Linked DNA regions of Homo sapiens: region 2 is linked to region 1. Evidence: fine-mapped expression QTL. Tissue or cell type: blood mononuclear cells. Region 1 holds a variant in brackets; the other region holds the start of a gene. All regions are shown on one strand. Distances are from middle to middle.

Evidence for each region. PIP is the estimated chance that this variant, and not a neighbour inherited with it, causes the effect. A credible set is the group of variants that fine-mapping cannot tell apart.
Region 2: SPAG17 starts here. The variant in region 1 is the best candidate, but not a certain one, in a credible set for the expression of SPAG17 in blood mononuclear cells (TOPMed, PIP 0.69).

What each region holds. Positions count from the first base shown.
Region 1 is chr1:118,037,554-118,040,472 of GRCh38, reverse strand. SPAG17 (sperm associated antigen 17) reads left to right here. Exons shown (of 49, transcript NM_206996.4): 23 at 1,029-1,181. Among named protein-coding and RNA genes, the nearest start is that of WDR3, 110 kb to the right of the region's middle. The variant C/T (reference allele first, on the strand shown) is at 1,460.
Region 2 is chr1:118,184,093-118,187,011 of GRCh38, reverse strand. It overlaps SPAG17 (sperm associated antigen 17), which reads left to right and starts at 1,784. Exons shown (of 49, transcript NM_206996.4): 1 at 1,784-1,941. The coding sequence starts at 1,855. LOC105378930 (a long non-coding RNA gene) reads right to left here and starts at 1,782. Exons shown (of 4, transcript XR_947746.3): 1 at 1,199-1,782; 2 at 731-857.

The DNA.
Region 1 (2,919 bases):
ATACAATTGGTAAATAGTAATAGTAACTGCAATAAGCAATTAATTAATAATATTCATTACAGCACACCTTGTTATCCCAGAAGCCAAGTGCATTCTGTGAGTTTACAGCATTTTTCTGGTGTAGCTCTGGAGCACAGAGTTTGGGACCTGCTTCCAATATCCACCTATTGTAGCTCTTACTAAGATTTGCATATGCATACAATGCGTATAAGTTTCAGGTGATTCGTAGTAAATTCAATATTTTCTCCTAGTTCTGTCAATTTTGAGGGATGATAGCTCAATCCAAATTGAAAGGAAATAGCCAATTTTTTTAAAACAAAAAGAAGGGAAATGAGTCCAAACACTAAAAAAGAGAATGCGTTGTTGGAAAAATTTTTATTAACGACCACAATAATAATAGCTACTATAACATAATTTTTATAAGTTGCAAAACCATTTAACATTAATTATATCATTTGATGAATCATAACATTGATTATAGGCATACATTGCCTCAGCCAGTTCATTTTCTCTTCTGAAATTGAGTTTGAAATGTGACTAGAAGGCCTGCAAATACCTCCTTGGTCTACCTGCCATTCATGCCTGGAATTCCACCATTACTTTATTTCCTTAGGCATTCTTTTATAGAGGTGACATCTCTAAGCATTTCCTCTCCCTGGTTTTATATTCTATGCTGCCTTTTTATTTTCGTTTCAGGGATATCTATTCAGGTTGGTTCTATAGGTAAATTGTGTATCGCAGGGCTTTGGTATGCATATTATTTTATCACCTAGGTAATAAACAGAGTACTCGGCAGGTAGTTTTTGGTCCTCACCCTCCTCCCACCCTCAAGTAGCCCTGGTGTCTATTGTTCTCTTCTTTGTGTTCATGTGTGCTCAATGTTTAGCTGCCATTCCTAAGTGAGAACATGCAGTGTTTGGTTTTCTGTTCGTGTGTTTGTTTCTGTGCAGCATTGTGTAACCATCTTGTCGAGGAGCTTAATGTGGCATCCTAATCAGCCCATCTTCTATTCTATGGTTCCTCCTCAGGCCCAACTTTTATCAAAGTGAGAGTGGTAAAGGACAACCACAATTTTATGATTCATTTAAATGACCCTAAGGAAATTGTGAAAAAGGAAGAGAAAGGGGATTATTATTTAGAAGAGGAAGAAGAAGGAGATGAGGAACAAAGTCTTGAAACGGGTAAGCTGCTGTTTAGTGGTTTCTTTCTTCTGACTAATACTCCTGTCTCTGTCCACTCCACTCCATTAAATGAATGGCTTATTGCATGTTCTTTTTCTCAAGTTTCTACCAGTACACTCTCTTATTAATAGTGCATGAAGTTGCCTATTTTCCTGAACTGAACCCTAATGGATATTAAGCGTTATCTTTTTTCTTTACCAGACTTTATTTTTTATAGCAGTTTTAGGTTCATGATGAAATTGAACAGAAGTTACAGAGATTTCTCAATGCCCTCTTCC[C/T]GTACACATGTCCAGCCTCTTCCACTATTAACATGCCTCACCCAGAGCGGTACATTTGTTACAGTTGATGAACCTACATTAACATATCATTATCACCCAGAGTCTAAAGTTTACATTACCCTTGGTGTTGTGCATTCTAAGGGTTTGAACAAATGTATAATGGCATGTGTCTACCATTATACTATCATACAGAGTAGTTTCACTGCCCTGAAAATCTGTGCTCTGTCTATTCATCTCTCCCTCCTTCCTAATCCCTGGTAATCACTGATCTTTTTACTGTGTCCATACTTTTGCTTTCTCCATAATAGCATGTAGTTGGAATTATACACTATGTAGCCTTTTCAGATTGACTTTTTTCATTTAGTAATATGCATTTAAGTTTCCTGTGTGTCTTTTCATGGCTTGATAGCTTATTTCTTTTGAAAACTAAATAATATTACATTGTCTAGATGTACCACAATTTTATTTTCCCACCCACCTACTGAAGGACATCTTGGTTGCCTCCAGCTTTTGGCAATTGTGAATAAAGGTGCTACAAATATTCGTGTACAGGTTTGTGTGTGGACATAAGTTTTCAACTCCCTTGGGTAAGCACCAAGGAGTGTGACTTTTGGATTATAGGGTAAGAGTATGTTCATGTTGGAAGAATCCACCAAATCGTCTTCCAAATTGGCTGTACCATTATGCATTCCCACAGTAATGAATGAAAGTTCTTGTTGCTCTATATCCTCACCATTATTTTCTGTTTTAGATTTTCTCCATTCTATAAGGTGTCTAGTGGTATCTTGTTGTTTTAATCTGCATTTTCTGGATAACAAATAATATTGAACATCTTTTCATATGCTTATTTGCCATTTGTATCTCTTCCTTGGTGAAGTGTCTGTTGAAGTTTCATGCCCATTTTTTAATCAGGTTTTTATTTTCTGGTTATTGAGCTTTAAGAATTCTTCATACATTTTGAGTAATAGTCCTTTAACAGATGTCTTTTGCAGATATTTTCTTCAACTCTGTGTCTTCTCTTTTTATTCTCTTAAAGCATTACCTTTTGTTCCATGGTTCATTTGAATTTCCCAGTCTAAAAATTATCTTTGCATGAGTTACATTATTTTAAATCAATATTGCCCCATCTTTATTATCTGATAATAGAGAAAATGGTGAACTGAAAATAAAACAAGTCAGAAAATTCACAAATTCTTTACATATACCTTCAGATGTGTGTTTTCTATTCATGATAGCAAAGAAATGGAATCAACCTAGTTGCTCATTAGTGGTGGACTGGATAAAGAAAATGTGGTACATACACACTACGGAATGTTATGCAGCCACGAAAAACTAAAACATATACTTTGCAGCACATGGATGCAGCGGAGGCCATTATCCTAAGCGAACTAACACAGGAACAGAAAAACAAATGCTGCATTTTCTCACTAATAAGTGGATTTAAACACTGAGTAAACATG
Region 2 (2,919 bases), 150 kb before region 1:
TGATTGGTGCATTTTACAGAGCACTGATTGGTGCATTTTTACAGAGCACTGATTGGTGCATTTTACAATCCCCTTGTTAGCTACAGAGCACTGATTGGTGCATTTTACAATCCTAGCTACAGAGTGCTGATTGGTGCATTTTACAATCCTGTTGTAAGAAAAGTTCTCCAAGTCCCCACTCAACCCAGGAAGTCCAGCTGGCTTCACCTCTCAATAAAATGGCCTAGTATTTGCACATAACCTACGCACATCCTCTCCTACACTTTAAATCATATCTAGATTATTTATAATATCTAATATTATGTAAATGCTGTAAAATAGTTGTTATGCTGTATTTTTATTTGTATATTTATTTATGTTTTAATATTTTGGATCCAAAGTTGGTTAAATCCAGGGATGAAGAACTGTGATGATGGGAGGGCTCACTCTAACTATATTAAAGAATTAGGGTGGAAAGATAAACTTCCTTTCATGGTCCAAATTACGAACAAAAGTTGAAGCATCATCATTAAAATTTGCCCCCAAATGAAAAAGGATGCTAGTGGCTGGATAGCACTATCCTCCTTCCCTCAATTTATTCCTCAAAGAAATTAAAAGGGTTAGCAATTAAAAGGTTTAGAACATCCCCCGTGGAAGGTCACCCGTTCATCAGGTTGTGCCCAGGGAAATTAAGTTTCTGGCTTGCATCACCTCACTCATCTGGGCCACTGGGATAACTGAAGCATCTCACCTCTAGGCAAAGTGCAGGGCCTTAATGGCTAGTTAAGCCCTGGTCAGTGCTGAATTCCATATGACTAATGAGACCGCAAGGCACCTTTGGTTGCGCTCTGCCCCAGGGTGTCCTCAAATTTGTCTCACTGCAATAAAAAACAAAAGTAAATCTAGCTCCAGAAGGGGGTATCCCTCATTTTGGCAGGCCTAAAACAGTAGTAGACAGCAGTGTAGCAGTTATGCACACTAGATCTGTGACTCAGATAATCCTGGGATCTAATCCTGGCACCATCAATCAGACACTGTGGGAATTGGATAAGGTGGTTGTGAGAATTAAATGAAATAATCTTGTATATAGCATATAACCAGTGCCCAAGAAACAATGGTTTTTATTACTATCATTATTTTGGGAAACTTGTCCAACCAGGATATTTTAGATATTGATGAGTGCAGGGTGGGAAAAAAGGGGAAAAAAAAGTCTACTTACCAATCAATAAAAGGCAGTTTAAAGGACTGGAGCTGTTTGGGCAGATAAGTACATTAATCCCACCTACAGTTAGATAAGGGGTCACGTGGAAGGGTGATTGGACTTGTTTAGTAAGGCCCCAGAGGCGGAGGCTGAAACAGTGCAGAGGGTAGAGGTCAAGGAGAGACAAATTTGGATTCATATAAGGAAGCATTTGGGGCAGATTAGAGCGGTTGGGAAAAAACGGCATGGGCTGCCTCCTGAAGGGGTCAGTATTCCAATCTTGGTTACTCAGGATCGGAAGAAATCTTGATGGAGGAGTCCTGGATGGGATTCCAGAGATTTTGAGTTTCTAGACAACGCCTCAGACCGTAGAAGAACGTAGCCCGACCTGCGAGGCCAGCCTCGTCCTGCCCTCCTCCAGTTGTGCAGCTTTCCTGCTGAAAAGTCCTAAAATTTGACCGGGGGACTGGGAACCCCGCCCCCAAGCTGCCGCGCGCTCTGAAACTCCGTTGCTGTGGAGACGGAGGCGGTTGACCCAAGGATTCCGAACGGTGTTGGGGGAGGGGAGCCGACGTGGTTCAGGAACTGGGCGTGGCTTCGGTTACTGTGGTAGCGGGGACGCTTAGGCAGGGCCTGCGCCCAGTTTAGAGGCCAATGCTTCTCCCGTCCTTTGCATGGCACCCAAGAAGGAGAAAGGAGGAACTGTGAACACCAGTTCTAAGATATGGGAACCCTCGCTCATAGCTGCACAGTTCAATCAGGTGAGCCTTGAGCCCTTTAAGCCCTCCCTGCCCCCGGCAATGCCAGAGGCCCGGCCAGACCCTCCTAGGCGACGCCTTAAGGCTCGCCCTCTCTTCCGTATCTCTCCGTGGCCTGATGGTTCCAGGACCCAGGGTCCCAGGGACAGGAAGTGCTTGATAAACGAACGGAACTTAAGGGAACACCCACCAGGTGAGTCAGTGTGATTTCAAAGGTTGGTGAGAACTGCCTAGTGGGGAAGAGAGGAGGTGTCGCTCTGACACCTCCAGAACCTTTTCAGTGAAGTCGTCCAGATGGCACTCCACAATTGTACTGGAATTCCTTTTATGGACTTTTTGTTTTCTCCTGAAACCTTCTAAAGGATGAGAATCGCATCAAATCATCTGTGGCCTGGCCCATAATAGGGCTTTAATAAATGCTGAGTGAAAACAGACACGGAGTGCCTAGAATTACACTGTATTTAGTACAAGCGAGCCTTGTATAGATAGGAAAAGATGATTTTTTAATGTAATGCCCTGATCCCACTATATTAAAGTTTTGACATATTTTTAAGGTGTGGGAGATCAGAGCAATGAGGGGTTGGCGGCCAACTTACCCACAGAATGCCACAAAGGCACCAGGCAATCTACAAACCACCTACCACAGGACTTCAAAGTGCATGAGATCCCAGAATTCACTGGCTCCCCACCCAGCTTCAGTAAATGAGGAGCCCAATAGCTCTTGTCACCTGCAGCTGGAAATCCCCTTCTACATTAAGCTGTTTCTACGTACAAGTTAGCATTTGGGAAGAGAAAAGTTGTTTCTGGAAATTCCAGCCCGCCATTATGAACTACTTTGAAAAGTGGGGAAAAAAAATTTTTTTTTCATTTTATATATGTCTGTATGGTGCACTAGAGAGTCAGTACTTAAAGGGAAAATGGATCTAAAGTCTTGTGTTGCCTTCATGAGAAATTTTTACCTGTCTTTATTTTCCACTATAA